2 separate regions of the Homo sapiens genome follow, and region 1 is linked to region 2. Evidence: fine-mapped expression QTL. A gene starts in region 2. The other region holds a variant in brackets. All regions are shown on one strand. Distances are between the middles of the regions.

Evidence for each region. PIP is the estimated chance that this variant, and not a neighbour inherited with it, causes the effect.
Region 1: its variant is fine-mapped to the expression of MACC1 in lung (TOPMed, PIP above 0.99).

The regions. Positions count from the first base shown.
Region 1 is chr7:20,139,438-20,152,186 of GRCh38, reverse strand. It overlaps MACC1 (MET transcriptional regulator MACC1), which reads left to right. Exons shown (of 7, transcript NM_182762.4): 7 at 11,029-12,749. The coding sequence ends at 11,241. It overlaps MACC1-OT1 (MACC1 3' UTR overlapping transcript 1), which reads left to right and starts at 11,761. Exons shown (of 6, transcript NR_110114.1): 1 at 11,761-11,870. It overlaps MACC1-AS1 (MACC1 antisense RNA 1), which reads right to left and starts at 10,271. Exons shown (of 4, transcript NR_046756.1): 1 at 10,167-10,271; 2 at 4,650-4,760; 3 at 1,598-1,752. The variant A/G (reference allele first, on the strand shown) is at 7,872.
Region 2 is chr7:20,212,229-20,225,272 of GRCh38, reverse strand. MACC1 (MET transcriptional regulator MACC1) reads left to right here and starts at 7,889. Exons shown (of 7, transcript NM_182762.4): 1 at 7,889-7,974. GIRGL (glutamine insufficiency regulator of glutaminase lncRNA) reads right to left here and starts at 7,696. Exons shown (of 4, transcript NR_134569.1): 1 at 7,651-7,696; 2 at 6,910-7,017; 3 at 5,517-5,690; 4 at 3,573-3,930. RefSeq lists enhancers at 5,156-5,285, 4,850-5,379, 5,296-5,445, 6,865-8,064.

The DNA.
Region 1 (12,749 bases), 73 kb after region 2:
CTGCAGTTGAGCTGTTTCGCTTACTTTCTCTCCTTTAACTTCTTTCTCTTCCCTTTGTTCTATTTTTATTGTATCTTAGGGAGAGTTATCTGGCACTGACTCCGTGACAGACACTGTTCTGGAAATATTACAAAAATTAATTAATGTAATCCTTTCAATAAAAACTCATGGGGCAGACACTAATATCTAAGATATGGAGAGGATAAGTAACTTGCTTAAACATACACAGCTGGAAAGTCCTGGAACCATGTTTAGAGCACAGACATTTGACTTCAGAGTCCATGACTTTAACCATTACACTCTGTCCATCACTGTTTAATATGGTGACTATGTTGCAGAGTCAGAAGGTGCGGCCAGGGTTAAGCAACTTGTTTCATTTTTTATTTGTCCTCTTTTCAGGCCATGTCAAGTAGCCATGATACTATCAAAAATTGCCTCAAAATTAAATCTTTACCAAGCCTCAAGCTGGTTAAAAAATGAAGTATATTAATAATAAATTTGTCAGATTTTCTGAACACCTTAACCATTTCTTAATTTTTTCTAAGGTGAAGAAAAAGCCTCTCTTTGGAAACTTTTGAGAATGTCACTTTTGAAATTAACCATCTCCTCAAGTTAAATTTTAAGAAATGTTACTCGACTTTTCTAATGACATGGTAATTACTACATAAAAGCAAAGCTGTAAAGCTTGGAATCTGATAATAAGCAAAGTATGTTTTTCAGAGTATTTCTTTCAGAAAAAATGCACTTACACTATACAAAGATGTCACTATTGCCAAGGTTCTTCCGTGAAAGTTAGTGAAAATTTATTGGCATTTTCTGAATATATTTAGAGTTTTAATTTTTTAAAAAAGGAATCAATAGCATATTAGAAAAATAGCTCACTTTTTAAATGTTGAATTTTACAAGGGGACATGCTGGGGATTCAGAGATAAGAAATTCACTGGCCTAAATTGGGTGCTCTTCACTTAGCCTTCTAGGGATGGTTACCACAAATGACAATACTTTTTCTATGGCTCCCTCATTGGCCCCCTTGCTTAACAATATAGATTATGCCATTTTTATCTTGTTTAATAAGGACACATATTCACCAAGGACACTAAAGTTTCACTTCCTTTCTTTTTTTTTTTTTTTTCTCCTTTGAGACAGTGTCTGGCTCTGTCACCCAGGCTGGAGTGCAATGGCACAATCTCAGCTCTCTGTAACCTCCACCTCCCAGGTTCAAGAGATTCTCCTGCCTCAGCCTCCCAAGTAGCTGGGATTACAGGCGCATGCCACCATACCTGCCTGATTTTTGTATTTTTAGTAGAGATGGGTGTTTCACCATGTTGGCCAGGCTGGTCTCGAACTCCTGACCTCAGGTGATCCACTCACCTCGGCCTCCCAAATTGCTGGCATTACAGGTGTGAGCCACCACTCTGGCCTCACTTCCTTTCTTCAATTACCTTTGCCCACTGGGCTCTACCTCAGCCACAGGCACCAATAGTCCTGTTGATAATAGTTTCTTATCTGACCTGCCAGAATGGGCCACTCTCCCAATGGAAGCCAGCGAAGTCAATGTTCCTAATGGTAATTTTTTTTCGTCTCGGAAATTACTCACCTGTAGAGATTCATAATTGGGAAGATGTATTTTAAGTCTATTTGTAGTCACCATTTAATCAATGCAGATCTAATACTCCTTTGTATCTTCTATTCACAACCTGTTCCTCATTTTCTGACTGGCCGCTGGAGAGTTCAAAGTACTTTGTTCCAAGTCTAGATTAAAGATAAGAAAGTTGTTGATTTTCAAGAAGTTTTAGTCATTTTCTATAAGTGAATGAATTCCACATGGAATTCTTTCCACTTATTTAGTATCTTATATCTGTGTCCTAGCCTTCAGTATTTAATTCATCCATATACTTAACGCTTATTCTGGGTCTATCAGTTCTGGACATTGGTTTAGGAGCCGTAAAAAACACACAATATGATTATTTTTTCCTTAAAAACCAGGTTTTACTTTGGCCTGGGAATTGGGATAAACTGTTAATATTTGAATTGTTATAATATTTCTTAAAAGTATAGGACTAGATGACAATGTTAATAGTTGTAACTTACCAAATGTTCATTGTCAGCTAGTCATTATGAGCATTTTCTTTACAGTATCTCTATTATTTCAATATACTTTGTAAGGAAAACATTATAGCCATCTGCTCTTTACATATATACAAACTGAAGGTGAATGTATTTGTGTAATTTATCCAGTTACATGGCTATTAAGGGCAAGTACTTAGATCTGAATTCACGTTGTCTTATATAAAGTCCTAACCACTGTATTATACTAATGATAAGCCCTTTCAAATTTAACTTACTTAAAAAATATCAAAGTGGTGAGGAGTAATTAGGAGACATGCTAGCTTTGAAGGATGGGTGGCCTTTGAGTAATTGGAGAGGAATAGAAGTAGACTTCAGTGCTTCTAAATATCAGTGAGCTCTAGGGACCACTGAGAAGATGTGGCCTGGAGGGGAGAGTTCACCTTACTAATTACTGGGTGATGTGGTCAGGTACATATGTTGGTATCAATGGAGGGGAGTCTTCAGTGACTACCAGAGCATAGAGGTTAAGATTCTTGGCTGGACTTCTGTTCCACCTCTACCATCTATCAGCCCTCAAGCCTTGGGCAAATTACTTTACTTTTCTGGGAATCTATTTTGTGTGTCTGTGAAGTAAGGAGAATAATACTATCTTACTCACTGGATGTTTAGAAGATCAAATGAGATAATAAATGTGTAATATTTGGGACAATGTTTTGCATATTGTAATCACTAAATACATATTATTTATTATTTTAATGAAGAGGAAGAGGAAAAGGTGAATTTGATAACTATATAACTTTGAGTAATTTTTGGAAAATAGAATAAAATACACTGTTTTTTTAGTAATGTGACTGAGAGTGCCTATAGGAAGAATGTAAGGAAAAAGTTAGCAGTTATTTCAAGGTTTCTCATCTGAGAAACTGGCAGAATAGCAATGCATGGAAAAAAATGAGATAAAGTCTTGGCTGATCAGCTTATTTCTTATGGGCTTAACAACATTTAATTTTCCTTGGAAATTATCTCTCGCAAAAGTTAAAAGAAATGTCCTTGGGCTGTATGGTTTTCTGGCTTACATGGCAACTTCTGGATTCTGCTTACAGGGATGTTGAATTATCAAGGTCTGTATCAGGGCCTGGTTCAGTTCTAGCCTTGGTACTTAATTCTTTTGTTTGCTGTTCTTTTGAAATGAGAAATATATTTATAATTTCTTAGAGAAGGGAAAAGTATTATATGGAAATTCACATACCAGTTGTAAAATGTATAGAATGATATCTCAAATCTCCATTGTTTGAACTAGAGATTTGGCACAGTGATGTTATTTAGATTACCATTGTCTACTTTGTACAATTTAGATTACCATGTCTACTTTGTACAATTCTATACTTGTTACAAACTTTAATTTCAAAAAGATACTCCATTTTGGGAGGAATGAGGTAGGAAAGAAAACAAAGATAGCACAGTGAAATTTCTGGGGTAACACATTGTATTCCTATGATCTTTGACTTAATTCTATATTATACACTGAAAATCAAATAGAAATAACATGCATATTAAGTTAAACATTATTAAGAAAATTCAAAATGGATTTAAAGACACTATTTAATTTTGACTTTAGGTTTTCTTTTTCAAGCTTTAGTACTAGGGAACATAAACAATAAGGAATTTCAGAAAACCAAAATCCAGCTATGTGTAAGACCAAAATCAGCATTTGTTAGAACTGCTTAATAATGAAATAAAGTTGTGGCAATACTTTAGTAAAATGGCCCTAGATTTATAGCAAGGTTACCTGGGTTCTTTTCCTGGATAGTTGACTGTGATTTTGTTTCTTAACTTTAAACTCAACTATAATTAGCATTAATTGAGCACTTGGTGTGTGCCAAAAACATTTACATCCATTCCTTTGTATACTTAGCAATTCTTTTATAGCATTGGGTACACCTTTTTTCTCATTTGCCAGAAGGGGAAAGCAAGGGCCTAAAGAAAGGTGATAGCTTACCTAAGATCCTGGAGCTACTAAACCAAGAGTCTAGATTTAAACCAAGATGTGTGCCGCTAAATCCAGAGCTCTTGACACTGTATTTTTTCATTTGTTTTAATGTTTACATTGAAAAATTAAATTGAAGGAGCCCAATTTCTTTAAACATTGGTGTCAGTTGTCTCCATGAATATATGTTTTTGGCAGGGGCATGGGTGGCAGTGATGATGAGGAGGCAATGAGGAATCCTCCCAACTAGGAATTGGTAAGATGGCTTAACCAGCAGGTTTTCCTATAATGTTAGACTATTTAAGCAGATGCACTAGCAAGGAATAGGTCCTCTGTCTTCCTCTGGCTCATGCTTAACCCCTGAAGTTCCAAGTGGTTATTCTCACCCAAATTTAGCTGGTTGTCCTCAAATAGACTTTTTCAATGGAATCTTGTGTCAAGTTTTAACCAAGCAGCATCTCCCTCGTGAGGACATAGGGGCCCCCAGATATGTTAGCCTCCCTTCTCTTCTGAAGACAACAGCAATCTTACCTTCAACAATATTTATGTACTTACTAATTATAGGTAATGTTAAATGTTAAGTGTTAAAGCTTACCTGAATATTGTAAATGATGTACTGAGGATAGAACACATGAAATAATCATTAAGAAGGCAACCTTGCCTTAATACTTCTTCAGCTAATGGTACTGAAAATGAAGTGTTGTTCCTGTAAGTTTATAGGAGAAGTAAGTGGATTACTAATCCTTTAATGTGACAAAATGTAATTATCCAAAAGTAGTTAAAACCAATTGCATTCTTTATGCTATTCATATTTTATAAGCTAAAAAAAGACATACAGTGCTATGCTGAAATCTGAATTTCTTCTACTCATGTGGCATTTCATTTTCTAGTGCATTTTCTAATGAGTCTTATTGGCTTCTGGGAATGAGCACTCTAAATTTGGAAAACTATGTATGTTTTGCCTTTATTCCTATTTCATTTCTTTTGGCATCCCACTTATTACTTTTTATTGCTCCATTACTTTTTATTTTGTCCTATAACACTGAAAAGATAACCTAAGACACACTTCTTCCACACAAAAGCTTGAACTTTGGAAAACTGCTCAACTTTGTATGTTAAATACTTACTCACGCTGCTGCCCTTTTTTATAAAAAGAAAAGCACATAGATGAAAATTAACAACTTTGTGCTTTTATCAGCCTCACGCTTCCTATTCAAGAATGAAACTGCAACATCATGAAGTTACCATTAAAAATCTAAGAATAGAGGCATAAGAATGCAGCCTATGTATTAAATATTTGTGATAGAAATGAGAAGGCTGAGATAATTTTTGTGGTTAAGAATAATTTAACAACTAAAAAACAAGCCCTCCTGAGAGGGCTTTCCTTTAGATTTTTCAAAACACAAGTGTAGAGTTTCTGCATATCTTTTCTAATCATAACATTGAGCAAGAGAGGAACAACTATTTTTAAAACACAGAATAGATACAAGACAACATAAATCTGGAAGAGATCTTGGCTGTCTGCAACTCCTTTCTAGCCTTCGGAGGATTAAATGTTAGTCAGTCCGGAAAGAAAATTATTTATTCTACGCATTTTATTCCTTCAAACATTTCCAGAAAAGATGACTTCATTTTCTTTGTAATTTATTAAAAAATTTAGAATTTTTTGTGACCTTACTGGGTAGATATTTTAGGGCAAATTTCATAGAGTTTATTGTTAATTAATGTACACAAATTACCTCTTATGTCTCTGCCTTGGATAAAATGTATTTACTGTTTAAGAAAACCAGAATGAAATGAGATAAAAAATGCAGAAAAAATAAAAGTACCTTTAGAACTTGTGTCCAAATGTTCATATATCTATTCCACAAAGGACAATTAAACAACTGATTAGCCTATTTACTGTATTGAAGAGACCTGGACGATTAATCAGGTTTTTTTAAGGCAAAGCTCAAATAGAGATTTACTTTTTTTTTTTTTTTTTCTTTTTGAGATCCAGGCTGGAGTGCAGTGGCATGATCTTGCCTCACTGCAACCTCTGCCACCTGGGTTCAAGCGATTCTCCTGCCTCAGCCTCCCAAGCAGCTGGGACTACAGGCGCGTGCCACCACGCCTCACTAATTTTTGTATTTTTAATAGATACAGGGCTTCACCATAATGGCCAGGCTGGTCTCGAACTCCTGACCTCATGATCCACCCACCTCAGCCTCCCAAAGAAGTGCTGGGATTACTTGCGTGAGCCACCACCCCCAGCCTAGAGATTTACTTATTAAGGGAAAACATAGTTCCCCCAATTTAATATTTTTTATCAGTGTATTAAGTACATAAGTCTTGACATATGCTTTTGTTCTCATTCCTTCTCGATTTCTCATGATACTTGCCCCTCTAATTTTGTGCCCTAACTCCATAATGATTTTAACATCCTTTTGTATTTATGTTTCTGCCAAAGGAAGTTAACCTTTCTTCTTGGGTGCTTTATATATGCTACCTCTTTAAGCCTCATTAACCTTAAGTTCTCCATATGGCAAAGCTAAGATTCAAATCCAAATCCCCTTGCCATCATAGAATATTACTTTAAAAATTTTTTTTCTTTTTAAAATACCTCTATTTTCTACTGCTGCTTGTTCTGGTAGGATATTACTTTTTAAATTTGTTTTTCTTTTAAAAATACCTCTATTTTCTACTGCTGCTTGTTCTGGTTCTGTCTCTCTTCCTTTGACACTCAAATTTCAGATGTGACCCATTTGTTTGGTGTCTTCCATTTCTTTGATACCTGTTTGTACCTGTCGTATGCCCCCGACTATTCTCTTGAAACTGCCTTCTCCAAGTTACCAAAGTCCTGCTAATTTCCAAAATCCTGGATTTGCCAAGTTTTTCTTTATATTCCCACATTGTTGATGTTACAGGTAGCAGTGGAGGTAACAGAAAAGGGAAGTCCTCAGTGTTACACTGGCATATGTTTACCAACCAACCCTGCAGAGGGAAAAAATCTAAACTTATAGCTTTTGTTAATGTTCTTAGTGTAAATATTCCGATCGTACATCATTTTAACCTACCATTGTGGTGTCACTGGAGTTGTGGAACATGGAGTTGGGAGGATATCCAGGGAGCTTGTGTGAGCTGGCTCCAGCAAGCCAATGCATGTCCTTTTTGGGATGTTATTATACTTCTTGGCTTTTGCAAGATGAAGCATGTGATTCACTTTCTTTTTCTTTGACTCCAGCTTCTCCCCATCCTTTTATTGCGTCTATTTCTCTCTTGTATCCACTAATAATTGACTTAGTTGAGAATTAAATTTTGCATCCCTTTTTTCTCTTCCTTGGTGTTTTCTTCTGCTCTCATGTGTTTTGCCATCCCTGTAGCACAAGTGATGCTAAACCCTTGTCTGTCCTCTCAAGGTCATCTCCTCATTCCAACTGTAATTTTTTATCAGATACCCTCCCTTTTGCTTGATATTCAGTAGGGCTGAAAATAGGCTCTTTAGCTTGCCCCTGCCAAAAAAATAAGTACTTTCTTCTCTATCCTATTAAGAAGTATAAATGCAAACTATATGCCAGATACATCATGAGGTATTTTGAACACAAAATTTGGGAATGATTATCCATATTTTATAGATTAAAAAAATTCCAAGCTGAAATAACTTGATTAGTTTATCAAATTAACCTATCAAATAGGCAACAGAACTCAGATGTAGACACAGGACTCTGCCACCCAAACCTATCTTTCTTTCCATTATAGCATCAGTGAATACAACAATCATTTTTTCTCACACTGATTTAAAATATGCAAGTAATTTTTGAGTTTTTCTGTAATTATC[A/G]CATCCTATTTCATCCCCTGTGCCAGTGTTTGTGCAGGTGTCTATCTCCTTCCTACGCTATAAGCTTCTAAAAGCAAGAGTCATGCAATATTCATCATTTTCTTACTGTAACAAAATTTATTGTAGTGGAAGATAATAAACCTTGATTTGATAAGCAAAATAGTTAATGAACAATGATAATGTTGAATATTTTCATTGTATTTATGCTATAAAAGTGTTTCTCTATCATCTTTGTTGAGAGCTACCAATGATTTTGTACACAGAAGATGAATTTTTGCACCAAAGGAATATTCAGGTTTAATTTGCTGCAATGAGGAAGAAAAATGGAATACAGAGTATGCTCATATTTTAGTGTAAATCGTAAAGTTTACCAACGCCCTATTGTTTTCAGCCCAATGCTCTTTTACCCATTTCTAGCCAGATTACAGCTTACACTCCAGGGAGTCTCAAATCGGTTTAGGGCAATATTCCCCCTTGCATTTCAGACAAATTCAGGGGACTCTTGGGAAGTCTTTACACCTTCAAAAATCTTAATTAGGGCCTAGGACTCAGTATTGTACCCAAATTTCTCTGATTTGCAAGAGCTATCGACACTACTCTGTTGTTAGTACAAATTGCCAAATGTAGGGCTGGGCGTGGTGGCTCATGCCTGTAATCCCAGCACTTTGCGAGTCCGAGGCGGGCGGATCATGAGGTCAGGAGATCAAGACCATCCTGGCCAAGGTGGTGAAACCCTGTCTCTACTAAAAATACAAAAAAATTAGCTGGGCGTGGTGGCGCGTGCCTGTAATTCCAGCTACTTGGGAGGCTGAGGCAGGAGAATTGCTTGAACCAGGGAGTGGGAGGTTGCAGTGAGCTGAAATCACACCACTGCACTCCAGCCTGGGCGACAGAGCCAGACTCCGTCTCCAAAACAAAACAAAGCAAAGCAACAACAACAACAACAAATTGCCAAATGTGAGGACGTTATGTGGTGCTCTGCGTAAGTGCATGAGTAGATGTGTCGTCGGACCTTTCCTGAATCTGTAGTTTCTATTTTTTGCATCACCTGTGGTATTTCCTGCCCTCAACAGCATGGAGAAGCTGCTTCTTGACTGAGTGTGCCTAAGGGCTCCTCTACACATAGCAATTCACAGTCCTGCCGCAAGATAGGCCATAGATACAGAGCTTTTCTTCCCATGAAAGTAGGTGGGGCCATATTGGCTGCTTTTGACTGTAAAAGTATTTGAATCTGTAGTGTAGTGGACAACCCCAAAATTACCCTTTTATAATTCTTGAGATGTCTGTTTTCTGCGATGCTTTACACTAATCTACTATGCCATCCCCTTTTTACAGAAATGTTTTAAGTTGCTGTTTATCATAAAATATCTTCAAATACATCATTTATCAGACTCAATCACTAGCAGACTTAGAACAGTCTTAGAAGCCTTTAGCTATAAACACCATTATTTTAAAAAATACGTGACAATTTGAACCAGTTCGTTGAGCATCAGGGACTTTTAAGTGAATAGAAGGTAGTGTCCACGTCTCAGAGATTTTACAGACAGAATATACCCACTACAGAATAATCTATTTGTTTAGTGATTCTTTGCAACTGAGCAGCGACAACCAAGATTGAGTCTGACAAAAAAGGTTCCATTACTATGTCTCAACTGATATTCCATTGTTGAGAAACTAGTGGCAATTGTACTTTGAGAAGTTTGATTTCAATGTAAATCTTCAGAAATATAGATGAGCAGATGCCTCATTCACATTCCATCAGACATAGAAGATAAAATTATTAATCCGGTTGGTGAGGGTAAAACTTATATACAAAAATCTGAGATGATTTTTGTTGCTGCACCATATGCTGATATGGTATAACTTTGATAATTGTCTTTTATTCTCTACCTTGCAAAATTAAGCTTTGTCGAGAGAGATGAGGAAATGGCTGTTCATGGCTTCCCAGGAATGCCAGTTTGGACAAATAACATTAAATTGTCCTTAGAGCCTTTTATGTGGATTGAATCAAATACATAATGGAACTCCCTATTTAGGTCTTTAATTCTTTTAACTTTAAAATTAGACTATATGAGGATATTGGAGGATGGTGAAAATTATATGCCAAGGCTTTAGTTCATGTGATATTACTGAACTGTGATAGAGGTTCTACTTTAAAAGGGCAGTTCTGCATGATATTTAGCTCGGAGTCTATGTTCCTACATTTTGCAAGTGATAGAATCACAACCAAATTAGTTCAGTGAACCCCCCAAAATAAGCAAATAATAAAGTTTATATTTCAAATATTCCACTTACAAGTGCAGGGTTCATTTTGTTGTTTCCCTAGAGAAAATTCATTTTAAGGTGCTGTGTGTGTGACGTGTGTGTGTGTGTGCGTGTGTGTGTGTATTCTACAATTTGTCTTATTTGGTCTGCCTTTGTCTCTATTCTCCCTCTAGCCTGGTTGCCTTGGTTACCATTACATGCATGCTTGTATGTGAAGTTTCTCTTTGACGTACATTTATTTCTATGGAAACAATGACATCATTGGTATGGGTAGGTGCTTAGGAAAAGCAAAAAGAAGCAGCACTGAGTATTGGTTTTTCTTTCGATGATAAAATATATCATGAAATAAATATTTTAAATTAGAGAATTATATTTTTGCTTTCATCTTGACTTGATCAAGAAGCTAGATTTTTGCTTGTTTATAGACTTGCTCGAGTAAAATAATTTAAAATGTTAAATATACTATTTCTCTCCTGATACATTATTTGGTGTCATAAAACTCACCACAGATAGGTATAATAATAATAATTAACTCTAAAAGTCTCTCAAATAGTAAAAAGCCTATCTCAATAACATTTGTTACCATCAAAAAATTGTGCAAGGAATTTTATATTCACATGAAAGCAACAGCAATGTATAGATGATGGATCAAGGGAAAAAAGGCCCTATTTGTAGTTATTATTTTTAAAATCTCTAGTTTTAAAAACACAGGGATATAACAGGAAGCTGATAGTTATTAAACCATATTTTCTATGACATCAAATAAGTCCATGTGTAATTGGTATTCCGTTTTATCTTAAATCTTAAGAGGCTTTTTACATCTTTTTTTTAAAAACGATTTTCCTCTCCTTTCTACTTCCACACTACTCCAATCTATTTTTTTTCTTTATAGATGATGTGGAAACCTGCCTATGATTTTCTGTATACCTGGAGTGCTCACTATGGAAATAACTACAGAGATGTGTTACAAGACCTTCAGTCAGCTTTGGACAGAATGAAAAACCCTGTGACTAAACACTGGAGAGAATTAACTGGAGTTTTAATACTAGTAAATTCTTTGGAGGTTTTGAGAGTAACTGCATTCTCCACTTCTGAGGAAGTATAGAAACAAAGCGTGTGTTTTTGATGGGAGGGAAAATGAGGTAATGGTGTGTGTGTGTGTGTGTCTGTGTGTGTCTGTGTGTGTCTCTGTGTGTCTGTGTGTGTGTGTCTGTGTGTGTGTGTCTGTGTGTGTGTGTGTGTGTGTGTAGGAAAGAAAGAATCTCAGAAAAGCATTATATTAATTTTCTTCATGCTCAAAACCAGTTTTTTTTTCCTGATGAAAGCACAGCCTAACTGATAACCAAGATGGGTTTTATCCTCAAATATGTATTTTTGTGTATGTTTCAAATACAAGTATTAGGCTGCTTTGTTCTTAGAAAGGAAAGAAAAAAGAAAAGTGCCCTCTCTCTCTTTCAGTGTTATTTTAAATTTACTAAGTCAAAGCTGTTTGAATAATTACATCACACAGATATCTGGGTAAACTAGAGACTATCAACATGATCAAGGCAGTGTTCCCAGGAGGCAGCTAGAAAGAGGGGAAGCAAGCACACACCCTGTGGCCAGTCACGGCTGCCCGCTTTCCACACCTGACCTCTTCAGTTCATCAGTGGGGTTCACCAGCATCACCCCCATTTTTCATGGGGAGAAACTCAGAAGTGGAGAGAACGTCTGAGGCTACATAGCCAGTACAAAGTAGGTTTTCTGCTTGAAAAACCTGTTTCTATTTCTTTTTAAAAAATCATACTGCATAACAGAATAGTAAAAACAAAATGCGTGTTAAGACTTACAGGGAAACAGTTGCCGTTTCATTTTAAGTGAGACTTGCTACTCTTTTTCATCGTCTCTTGAAAGACTGACAGAAGGAAAATATGACTTATCAGAAATCTGTTGTCTGCATGCATGGACCTAGTGTTTTCATCAGCTCCCTTCAGCATCTTGGGACCTCTCTAATCCTGCCTAATTTGGGACTTTTTCTGCAGGATTGTAATGTAAAATAGTTCTTTAGCTCTTGGAGATTTTTAATAATACGAGTTATTAAAAACCACCACCACCAGAAACTTGATTAACTTGATTACCCTGTTGAGTAGAGAGGTCTTAACCACCGAAAACACTGATATCTTTATGTTGGCATGCTCATGCAAACACATGTGTGTGTGTGTGTGTGTGTGTGTGTGTGTGTGTGTACCACAGTGTTTTATAAAGCACAGCCTAATTGATTATATAGGACAAAAATTGTATAGGACCCTGGGTCAGTATAAATGCTAATGGCTGACAAAGTTCACAAAGAGATGTATTTTGCTTACTCCTCTGTTCAATCCTCTGGTTGCCTGCCAGTGTTTATGTGTGTATTTGGACAGACATTCATTTATTGTCATTCAGTCAATAGGTAGAGTATATGTGTCTATTTTTTGGCAGGCATATAGATGCTTGAGGCTAATGGGAAAAAACCAGCATGAACTCTGACTTTAGTAGTGCTAAGTAATAGATAATTTTAAAAAATGACACCGTTAAATAGAAAATGGCATGCATACTAACAGTTGCAATGGAGAGGCTGTGATGCTACGAGATATA
Region 2 (13,044 bases):
TGAAAAAAAATGCGTTGAATTTAGAAAAATGGCCATAAGGAGAACTTGATGAAGGGAGAAGTCCGATTAGAAAGAGTTGAGGACTGAGAAGATAAGGAAATGAACAGCAAGTGTATATGGAGAGATTCTGTCAAAACATTGATTGGTGATAGGGAGCAAAGATGATCATAGTTGCTTGAGAGAGATGTAAATGTTTGTTATTTTTATAAAATGAGGGACATTGGAGAGATGTATGGATAGGAAGGATTCAAATGAGAGAAAGAGGTAAAATATACTGAAAACACAAGAGATACTTGATGTTAAATATTTCTTAAAAAGACAGGAGGGACATGCCTCGAGAATTGCTTAAAGTGTTAGGCAAATTTTGACTAATAAATAATTCTTGGCTCCTTATAAAGAATCAATTATTGGAACAGTAATGAATAAATAATTCTGCAATGATTAAAGAAGAAACAATGATGATACTTTTGCTATATTTAATTTAATTCATTCTTATTTTCTGGCCCTAGTGCCATCCACAAGAAGAGATAAGCTCTTGCTTTACATTCACTAGAATAAGACTTTTCTACATTTAGAACTGACCCTAAGCAAAACTCTCAAATATTAACTTTTATTTGGGCTACATTGGTTAGGTTATTTCATGTTTCAAGAAATAAAAATAATGAAGATGTGTTGAAAGGATGGAGAACACATTTAGGAAGCACAATAAGTCACTAACACATGTGTACAATCAGGAAGAACTTAAGTATAGGTTAGAACATAAGTCTTAGTACAATCCTCTACAATGCAGACTTCATGAAACCATAGATTTGTGTTTATTTTCTTCAATGCAATATAGCCAGCTCTTAGAACAGTCCCTGGCACACAGTAAGCAGTCAATAAGTATTTGTTGAATGTAAGAATAACTAACAGCTCACCTTGCCTTGCCTTTATAAATGGGTGTCTAATATTGCCTCATTCTGGGATCCTACCATTCCTGTGACTAGCTGTTCTCTTATTCTGCTTCCATCTCTTTCTGTTTCTACTGCCACAGCCAATCACCAGCCCTCCACCCTGCTGCTCTCTGCTCCAACAGCAAACTTTTGACTAGTTTGTAGTTTCTGCTTTCTGTCTTGTTGTGGTGCTTATCCTGGTTTTGCAATACTCCAGAGTTTGTACCTCTACTTGAAGTTTTCTGCTTGCATGCCAAAGAAAGAAAATTTGATTGGTTAGTTAGTTGGTTACTATCCCATGTAAAAATATTCTAATAAGACATAGCTTTCATGCTAGATTATTTTATAAGCCCACTATCTAACTGCATAGTTTTCAAATTTGCCTACAGAAAGGAAACCACTTTATATTGAACTCAACACTCAAAGACACACACACCACACACACACATACACTCACATACACATTAGAATGAACAGTTCATGAAACAACACTGACCCTTTTTAGTTCGATGTATTCTGATTTATTCTATTGTACTCTATTCATTTCATCTATTCAGTTCCATTCTATTTCAATTTATTCTATTTCACTTAAAAATGTTGATAAATTGATTAATGACCCACAAACTAGCCAAATATATTAGGTTGGTGCAAAAGCGATTGCGGTTTTTGCCGTTACTTTCAATACAATTTTAAAAATCCTGATCTAGTTGCAGATGGTCAGTTTTGGTTTGAACATCAATTTTCCACCCAGTGATCTGTGGTCAGTCATCTGTGGTGAGTCAGGGCAATGGAGTCATATAGTACCGGGCAAGGAAAATTGGATCCATGGCTCAGTTCTTTCAGGAGAAAGGAACCACTTGTGTGAGAGGCAATTCTTTCTGATGCAAGCAGATTCCTGCATTTATTTCTGCAAATAAATATCCCTCCGTTTAGTTCTCCCCTTATCCTTCCCCACTCAGCCCTGTTCATAAACTTACCCTTGCCAAAATGTCAATTGATGAATCCTTGCCATGGCAATCCCTCTAAGTTGTATTTCTGTTTTAATGCCATCTTGTTTAACTAATTTAATTTAATTGTTCTTGAGAGCAAACCATGTTTGAAGCTGAATCATCTGTTTATCACAATAAAATAATAGGTGACAGCCCAGAGGCAGGTGATGTTTTGGGGACACCATGCCTTTCTTTATGCTTCTTCAATCATACATCTTCTTCTAACACAGGTCCTGTAGTAAATCAAGAGACTGTCTCTTTTCCCCAATGGGTAGCCTATACAGGACTCAACTCCAACCTAGAATGTTACATGGAGAATTTCCTGAGGAAATTCCTGAGAATTGCTTAAAGTGTTAGGCAAATTTTGACTAATAAGTAGTTCTTGGCTCCTTATAAACAATCAATTATTGGAACATTAATGAATAAATAAATTAATTCTGTATGGTAGATGAACAATGGCCCCTCCAAAATGTCCTTGCCCCAATCCCTGGTATATGTAAATATGTTACCTGACATGGCAAAAGGAATTTTGCTATTGTGATTAAGGGTCTGTACCTTGAGATGGTGGGTGGGAAGGGGCTGATCCAGATTATCCGGGTGGCCTCAATGTAATAATGAGTCCTTCAAAGCAGAGAAGCTTTCCTGGCTGTAGTCAGTGAGAGAGATGTGATGACGGAAGGATCAGAGATGCGGCAAAAGAGCACTCAGCCTGAAGCTGCTGGCTTTGAAGAGGGAAAAAGAGATCTGCCCCCAGAAATGTGGGTGGCCTCTAGAAGTTGGAAAAGGCAAGGGGATGGATTGTCCCCCTAAAACCTCCAGAAAGAAAGAAATGTGGTCCTGCTGACACCTAGAATTTAGCCCAGTGAGACTTGTAGCAGCCTCCTGACTGCCAAACTTGTAAGACGTTAAGTTCGTGTGGTTTAAACTACCAAATGTGTGGTAATTTGTTGCACCAGCAATTGAAAGCGAATACAGTTAGAAGGAACATGTTAGCACCAGAAGAATGTGTGAAACTATAAGAAGCCAGCCTCATGTAGACTCCAACATCCGAGGTGGAAATTCTAATGGGGTATTGGATGGGTAACTTAAAGCATTCCTCTTCTATGTCAGAGAACACTGGGATTTGGCCCCTTGTCAGTGAACCTATCTGTGTCTCTGTGTTCAACCTTTTAATCTCAAGTTAGAGAATAGAGCTCACTGTGGCATAATACTTATTAGGTACATAAAAAATAAGAGACAATATTCCCAGGATATAAAATGTACTGCTTCTTTCTGACAGAGTTTCCAATTGTCAGAAAAATTTATCTACTCGTAAAATCCCACTAATGATGTCCACAGAACGTAACAGTAGGTGAATAGATGTTAATATTTTTTAAAAGTTTTGCATTTTCTTGTGCAAAATTTAAAAATGTGCAAGATATTTACATATATATATAATGAAGCCTATTATCTAAACATATTGGAAAATGAATTAGGAATATCTGCCACCCCCTTGTCTTGGGTTTATAGAATATAATTAAACATCGATATTCCATTCTCAAAGAACTTACTCACTATCTGGTATTCCAGAAACTCAGAGTAAATTATTTTTCCCACTAAAGTGGGTGAAGTAATTGATATGTTTGTCCACACACAGACACATACACATATATTTGTTAATGGAATGCACAAAAAGTGCTATTTTAATAGAGAGACACAAAATATTACATATTCATGGGACTTAGGGACAAAACTATGCCTTGGAAATTTTCTGGAAAATCACATAAGCTCCAAAGAAGTTGATACAAAGGCAGCTAAAGATCTTGGTTTGATAGTGGCAATTCTACCAATACAAATACAAAGGAATCAACAAATGGACAACTCTTTAGATTACAGTTATGACACAAGCAATCCACAGGCATTCCAGTGAAAACTGCACAGAGCTCTCTCTGTTGTTACTTGCAAAAGGCTAGCATGGAAATATCTTGTGTTCATGTGAAGAGTTGGCCCATATTTCCTTGCGTGTTATCCTGAAAGCAACAAATGACAGAAAAGAGTGATGAACATGTAAACCACAGCTTTGTGGGGGTCATTTTATGGATGATTCATCTTATGGTTGAGTAAGGCTCCGAAAAGATGTGATGAAGGAAACTATGAAATTGTTAACAACAACTTGGCTCACTTTCTTAATCTGGGGCAATAAAATCAATCTGACCTAAATTTACTCTGGCCCTAACATTTTACTATGATTTCAGCTATTCACTGAAATTAACTGGTAAATGGCATAGTCAAATGTTTTCAGAAAGTTACAGGATGATAATGACTCAGGGACAAAGTGACCCAGAAAACGGATGTCATAGCAGCCCGGGTTCTGAGAGTCAATACATACTGAAATAGGACAGAGAAAAAACTCCAGGGGGAACTTTCTTCCAAACTTGCAAATGTGGCCTTTCTCTTTCCAAGATAATGTCATACTAAGAAAAATCTGAACAAGGGGGGAATATGCTGTTTCCTATCACTCTTTCTGGTATATTTGTACTACAGGGGCCAAACATGAGTGACTTTAACATACGACATAGGTCACTGAAGGATACAAAAAAAAAAAAGAAAAAAGGAAACAAAAATCCTTTTGATTATTAAATAACAATAAGCAATAGCTTGTGTGCTTGAGTTCCCTCTCCAGTGTAGGAAACCACTAGTTCTGCTCCCTCTGAGATACAGAGAAGGGGTAGAGTCTAAATTCTAACCCTAGTTAAGAGAAAAAAATTACCTCTGCATTAATGAGCAACCTGACAGCTTCCATGTGGTCAGGCAAATTTTAAGTTAGAAGGAACTTTAAGCAAGACTTCCTCATTTTATTGACCAGTTTAATGTAGGTCAAATATATATACATGTACTCCAGGCACTGTGGAGATTTAGGATATTTAGAGATAAATAAAATCCAGTACTTGATCTGATGGAATCTAAATATACTGGGGTAGGTAGTGACAACGTGGTAAGAGTTGTGTGAGAGGTTCGTATCACTCAGAGTTTTTAGCTTCAAGCAACAGCAAATGACTGTGGCAGATCTAAACCGAAGAGCAACACACCAAACTTCAGTCCCAGAATTGCTGGGAGGGGCTTAAGAATCAGGCACACAGCTTACGAAGCCAGAGCAGCCCCCAAAGCAATGCCACTGAATAGGTTCCTTGTTTCTGCTAAGGCCCAGGAACCACAATTTGCATGACCAACGCCATGAGCCCTGGACTCTGCACCCCACGGCCACCACAGTCACATCCGGAACAGCAGGTTGTTTGCACAGCTGCCTCTGCTCACCACAAGAGTGAGTTCTCTTCTGTCCCTGCTTCTTTGTGTCAGCAGTTCCTAATTCCTGGTCCCAGATAGCCATGTCTGATTGCCATTCTAAGTGCTTTGCCTCTCCCTTATCTACAAGCGCAGCTGGGACAGTGAGTCATTGGGATTTCAGCTTCTATGTTGGTTGTGACCATTGCGTAAGTCAGTACAAGAAACATGGTAGGGGTAAGGAGGTCAGAAGAGACTTTCTTAAGGAAGTGATCCTGAGCCATGTGCTGAGGATGAGCTAAGGCCCCAACTTTACATAGCTGGTGATACTCACACAAGCAGGCTAAGGGGCCTCCAGTCCTTATGACATAATTAGAGGAGAGCTGGGAGGAATTTCCAGACAACAGCCACCTTCACCAGCCAGCCCTTTTGTCTGATGGTCCACACAAAACTCATTGTATGAGTCAGCAGGATCTAGAAGGTTCACTTCCTCCACAGTGGCCGACAGCTAGAAGACACAGCAGAGCATGTGGGGACCAGGAGAATCCCATAGAGGCAGAGGTGTGAGGAACTAGCAACTGTGGAAAGAATTCCCTTCCCTGAGGGAGGAGATCAGTGGTTAAGAACTATTTAAATAGTCCAAAGTGCACAGTTTAATCTTTAGAGCCCGTAGATTAGATAATAGGAGAAGGGATCCATAAATGCTGGAGCTGATAATCAAAAATCATAGATAGAGGTAGGGCCAGGTTTCCAGGACCATGGGACTGAGGACTCTAGGGAGCCCAGTCCTTGGGGAGCTGTTAGAAAGGCAAGTGCACAGCAGGGATTGGAGCTGGTAAACAGTGAGTGCTGACCCACTAGGGCTTTCATTTCGGGTACTGTCAAGGGTTCAATTGCTAGATTTAATGCTTTGCCTTTCTGCAAATAAAGGCTGTGGGAGCCACACCAGACCAGACTGCAGGGGGATTCTGATAACAGTACTCATGCATGGCATTTAGGTAGCTTTTTAAATGTAAATGTTTTCCGGGAGACATAAAGATGGCATTAGGCATTAACACACACACACCTTAGAGTTAACATCTCAGTTATTTTATGTGTTGATTGTTTATCACAAACATCTACTTGTACATTAATGAGTTAATGAAGTAGGGATACAATGAGGCCTTGCCTTCAAATAGGAATGTAAGACTGCATAGGTACACACACACCCATGTAAACCAATGAAATGAGATATACAATGTGTTATGAGAGGAGCAGATGCAATATTATGAAATTGATTAGGAGGAAGAGAATAACTCAGATTAAGACAAACTGAGAAGGACATCTTGAAGAGTGTTTTTCATTGAGCTTTGGAAAAAATGAAATCTCTGAACATTTCAAGATGAGCAAAAATGGTTTCAGGGAGGAGAAATGCCATGCAGAATGCCCTCTGTAGGGTTTGGGGAAATTAAGAACCATTTGTTTTGGAAATAATATAATGACATAAAGGAAAGCTAGGTTCTAGTAGAGAGTTGAGGAACCTGTGACAAAAAGAAACAGAACAGCTCAGTTTGGATTGTGGGATGAGTCAAGGGGAAACTTCAAAGGGAATCTGGGTGGATTAGGTGATCTGGCAGCATGAAGCCAGGGATGCATCAGGGAGGAAGGGGTGGTTAGAACAGTAGGAGAGAAAGTGCAGAAAAGGGAAAGGAAACTTTTTCTTTGTCACCATTCTGCCATCTACTTACATTAGATGAATCCTTCTATTATGTTTCTGAACCCAGACCCAGCCAGGACTTGTCTCTATTCATTTTCTGGGCTGTGTCTAACAGGAGATAATAGGCTAGAGAGAGATGCTGTATGAACAAATAGAGAAACACATTTGTTTTAAACATTCTCTGTTGCTGATGTTGGAAAAAAATGTGAAACAATTATTGCACATTTCATTTCACTAAGTTTTACCTTTTTTCCCCTTTCCCCTAATTTTCTCTTTCTTGAATTTTGAACAAAATACACAGAAGGAAAACACAAAACACAGAAATGGAAAGTAAAATGGAAGAAAATATCAAGAAAACTTTATTCTTGCTTATATTTTAAAAGGCACATTTTAAAGTGTTATCTTAAAAATCCAGAGCATTTTAGAAGATGAAATGCCAAAAGGTCTCCATTATGTCTATATGTCTATGTCTTTGAGTGACAATCACAGTGCTGATGTAGAGGGAAAGGGGGAACTAGTTAGACACTGTCACTCACCTGGGAAGGCTTTATTCACCTGTTCCACAGGGCAGTGAGGCACCTTCAGCTCTGAATCACCGAAAGAGAATCTGGTGGGGCAAGTTCCAGCTGCATGAGGATTTGCTTGCATAAATATTTTTTACTTATTGCTAACACTGAGGGTGCCTTCTTACTCCCTGGCAAACATTAAACCACTTTTATTTCCTTTCATGGAAATAAGATTATATTTACAGATGGTTCTTAGATATACTCACCTGATTTTTTTTTAATTGCTTTTCCACCTGCTTCCCCTTTCTTCTTAGGGTGAAACTCTAGCCATACGCCCTCTTCTGGTTTCGGGTGAGGAGCCTGAATTGTGGGTATCGTAGTTCTCTTGCCTTTTGGGGTTTCTAGTTGGGCAGCTTTGGAGCCACAGTGGTAGAACTTCAAGTCCCAGGTGGCTCAGGAAGCAGGGGTGCAGTTGCCTGCCTGCATACGGAGCAAGGCATGTTTGAAGAGTACCCGGGTTTGGTAGAGTGACTTCTATTCACTAAAACCATGTGTCTGAACTGAAGAAGCTTGGGCTCACTTCCACAAATGTAAGTGCTGATTTTTTAAAAATAATATTCCTTTCACTATTGATATGTGCTACACACTAGGAAGTTGTATAATTTCCAGAAAAATGTAACAAACCAGCTGCTTAACAAATCAAGCCCTGCTTAAATAAAGGGAAGGTAACTGGTATTCTGTGGGCTTATGGGACATGTGTTAGAATAAACCTCATGACATAGAATAGAATAATACCTTGAGACATGGTTTAGAATAAAGTAGTTTATTTTAAAAAAAAGGAGGAACCCAGGTCACATTAACCATCAAAGGCAAAAACAAAACACTCTATGAGTTGCTTAAAATATGTAGATGGCTGAAATCCCCTAAAAACTTTAAATATCTCAAAAAGCATACAGGTATGTTAAAAAGACTGTGCTTTGAAGATAGATAAAGTTGCAATCAGCAGCCCCACTGCTTATTAGATTTATGACCATTGACAAGATGTTTCACCTCGCAAAGTCTCAGTTTCCTCATCTGTAAAGTGTGTGTGCATAACCTACCTCATTAGGTTAATAGCATTAAATTATGAATAAAAGATAATCATGTAATTAAGTTAAGGGGGTCATTAAATTAGCACAGTGCATTGTACTGAATAGACAGATGATACATGATGGAGGGTAACTTGGCTTCATCCTAATTAAGTTTCAATTAAGCTTGGAAAACACACCAAAGAAACAAAAAGACAAATACTGGATGATTCAACTTACCTGAGGTATCTGGAGTAGTCAAACTCACATAAATGATACTTAGAATGGTAGTTGCCAGGGGCTTGGGGGAAGGAGAAATGAGAGTTGTTTAATGGATATAGAGTTTCAGTTTACAAGATGAAAACACTTGGAGACTGTACAATAATGTAAATATATTTAATACTATTGAACTTAAAATTTGTAAGTGTAAACACTTACAAATGGTTAGGATGGTAAATTGTATGTTAAGTTTTTTACCACAATTAATAAAGATAGATTTTAAAAAATTTATTTTTAAGATCAAAAAGCATGTAGTGAAAATTCCAATGCCTTCCATTTATTAAAGGTCTTCCTAATTTCCTAAAAATGTCTTAAGTCTATATTCAGTGGGTCTAATTTAGGATTGATATTGACTTATCTATGTTAATGTCTGGTTTTTACATAGCAATTACTGGGTGATAATGATGAATTTCAGGTATATTCTTAAAGTTGTCTTAACCTCAGTGGTGATTCTTTTATGCCCCCCTGAACTTAATTACATGATTATCTTTTATTCATAATAGCGATTTTTAATATGATTTCATGGGTAGTGTACAGAATCTAGAAATTATGAAGTCATAATTATTAGTTACAATTTGCTTAAAAGCTTTAGTTATGACTCATTTTTAAAACTTAAAGCAAAAATATTATTTATTCCAGTTTTCTCAACTTCCTTGTAGCTAATTTACAAATAGAATATTTTTATCTGTTTGTGTTTTAGAGATAATAAAAACTATTAAGGCAAAGTTTGTTAAACACCATCTTATCTTAAAATGTATTGGCTGATTTGGAGGACAAAAGACATTTTGGAATTATACTAATTTTGAACTTGAAGACATGTCTGTTGAATTTTTAGAGAATTCTTTCTTGAAAGACCACACATATGCCTAGGTGTCTATTAAGACTAAACATCCCTTATGGCATTTGGTGATAAGTGAAGGTGATAACAACCAGCATTTCAGATGACTGTGCAGAGTTTTACATGTGATATGCCATATATTAATAAATGTAAACCCTATGTCAGCAAGTCCAGGATAGAATTAGAATGAAACTTGTAATTCTCCAAAGGTGGAGGAAAGCTGCAGAGGCACTGAACACTGTATACTTCTAAAAGGGTGGCTTTTTTTGTTGTTGTCAAGTGCCGTCTATGGTGTAGTGTCTCTAGGAAGTGTCATTCATTCAATTGACAAAGATTTCTAGCAATCCTGCAATATACTCCCCCTGGGCTGGGTTTAGAGGCTAGAAGAAACTCATGCACAGCCCTTGAGGGGATCCTTATCTACTAGCAGAGATATGACCTCATAAATAGTTAAAGAGAGTAAGTGCTAATTCATTAGTCATTCATGCTGTTCATAGAGTCACTCCACAGAAAGTGTGATGCTCAGTATCAGGGGATTAAAAAGACACCTTCAAAAACCTTTCTTTCAACTATAATTACTGGAGACCAAATAAATAAATAAATAAATAAATAAATAAATAAATAAACTTGAGATGTATATGAGTCATTCAGAAGCAGAGTGGAGTGACTTCCTAAAACACAGAAGAGACGCGTACCCAGGCTGCCAGAGGAAGGGGCAGTCACAGTGCCCTGAATTTCAAGAGGACATTGTGGGAGGTGGTGGAACTTTAAGCAGGCCTGGAAAAATGTGCAGAGTTGAGATGGGCAGGAAAAGGTCATGAAAGTATCTCACGTACAGCAGTGTTTTCCAAACTTTCGCACATTAAATGATTTTCGGAAACATATGGACTGATCAATCAATAACAATAACATTAAGATTACAGATTGAGAAAGTTATATTTTTTGACTTAGTTTCAATTCTTCAGAAATAAGTTTTGTTGTTTTTGATATGACTTAAACTTCTCCAAACACTTGTTTAAGCTTCCTTTATAACACTCACAGAATAAGCAATAAATGTTAGTAGGCAAAAAGTACTTAGTTTAATTTAATTACTGCTTTAAAATAACATTTATATATAGTTATTGCCTATTTATTACAATAGATATCAGCTTTTTTCATTTATGGTACTAATAGACATTAACCTTTCAAATATTTGTCTTACTTAAAATAAGAGTGAATTTACAGGAAATATTAAGTAAAAAGTAGTTCAGGTGGCAATTGGTAGTGGAAAAATCATGATGAGGTACCAGAATGAGTGAAGTTTGGGAAACACTGAAGTAGGGGGAATATCAAGCACAAGAATTAGGAAGTGAAATTGAATGGGCTGTTTTTATGTGTAGCTGGAAAGAAAGGAGGGATACTGGGTATTCCATGGAGGGTATTCTAGGGGATTTTGGATGATAATGCTGGAATAAGGTTGGTTGTGGAAGCTTTAAAGGGATTTATTCTTCAGCGGCTGGATAACAGGGGGCTCAAAATGGTTCTGACCAGGAGCCAACTGTGGAAATCCATACTTTAGCGGGTTCCTCCTGGGCATAGTGTGCAGGAGGATTGGAGCATAGGGAATATGACACCAGGAGAGCTCTTTGGAAATAGGTTTCAATAAGCTGAACATGAATAAATGAAGAGTGGTAGGAATTAAAATGGAAAAGAAGCAGAGGATGAAGGAGTAATTCAATAAAAAAGAAAACTGAATAATAATAATTATAGTGACAGCCAAGCTGCTCTTGAGTTTTTATTTATTTTATTTTTAACTTTTATTTTATGTACAGGGGTACATATGTAGGTTTGTTACATAGGTAAACTTATGTCATGGGGCTTCGTTGTACAGATTATTTCATCACCCAGGTATTAAGCCTAGTACCCAAGTTATTTATCTTGACCCTCTGCCTCCTCCCACCCTCCACCCTTCAATTGGCCTCGGTGTGTGTTGTTCCCCTTTATGTGTCCATGTGTTCTCATCATTTAACTCTCACTCATAAATAAGAACATGCAGTATTTGGTTTTCTGTTTATGATAGCCTCCAGCCCCATCCATGTCCCTGCAAAATACATGATCTTGTTCTTTTTTATGGCTATGTAGTATTCCATGGTGTATATGTACCACATTTTCTTTATCCAGTCCATCATTATGGGCATTTAGATAGATTCCATGTCTTTGCCATTGTGAATAGTGCTGCAATGATCATATGTGTGCATATGTCTTCATAATAGGATGATTCATATTCCTTTGGTTATATACCCAGTAATGGGATTGCTGGATAAAATGGTATTTGTGTCTTTAGGTCTTTGAGGAATTGCCAGACTGTCTTCCACAATGGCTGAACTAATTTACACTCTCACCAATGGCATATAAGCGTTCCTTTTTCTCTACGACCTCACCAGCATCTGTTATTTTTTGACTTTTTAGTAACAGCCATTCGGACTGGTGTTAGATGATATCTCATTGTGGTTTTGATTTGTATTTCTTTAATGATCAGTGATGTTGAGCTTTTTTTCATATGATTGGTAGCCACATGTATGTCTTCTTTTGAAAAGAGAGCTTCCAAAGGGAAGGGTGGGCCACCATCTTTGCATTTTCCACATCTTAATTATTCCAGCCTGTGGGCTTTGGAAATGTCAAGTCGACCAAGGTGGAAGTGGTATCCCAGCACAGAACAGCTGCTCTACGAAAACATGACCATACAGCTTCTTTAAGCCAGTCCCTGATCTCATTTCTTTTTACTAGGTGGAACCTACCAAATGGGGTCTCCAGCCACTCCCGCTAGTATTCTTCCGCCTACAGAAATTTGAAAACTCCCTGGGCCAGAACTCCCAGAGGGAGGAGCGGGCTGCCATCTTTGCTGTTTGAGCCTCTGGAGTTTTTAAGCTTGGTGGTCTGAGAGAAGGACAGTAGCACTGAAGGAAAGGAGAGGGAACTGGTTCTTGTGGGGAAATGCAGCTTTGTATCTCAGGTGATTTGAAATTGAGAGGAGAATGGACCTTCAAGCAGAAAAGGGAAACTATGTTGTTAATCATGTGGGATTGGAATTCTGGAGTGCCATCAGGGAGGGCCAGATAAATGGAGGAGACAAGTATGTTCCTCATTAAAATGACACCTAGCTCCGCTTTTCCTCCTGCCCCACTCAAGTTTCCAGGAGAAGAGAGCTGAAGAGAGATTCTTCAGGTACTCAGGGATGGGAAGGCAGAGGAAGGGCATGCTGACTCTTTCCTCCCAGGTTTTGTTTTCTCTTGGTTACTGTGGCCACCACCTTGCCCAGAGATAAGAGGCTTCTTTATAGGGGCCTTCCTTGGAATAAACAGAAACATCTTCATCTCCAGCCAGAACAGACATCAGGTTTAATTTCCAGGAATGGTAGAAGAGTTTTGTATGTTTTCTATTTCCACTGGGAAGACACCTAATTTAGATATTTCCCCAATACATGTAATATGTAGTAG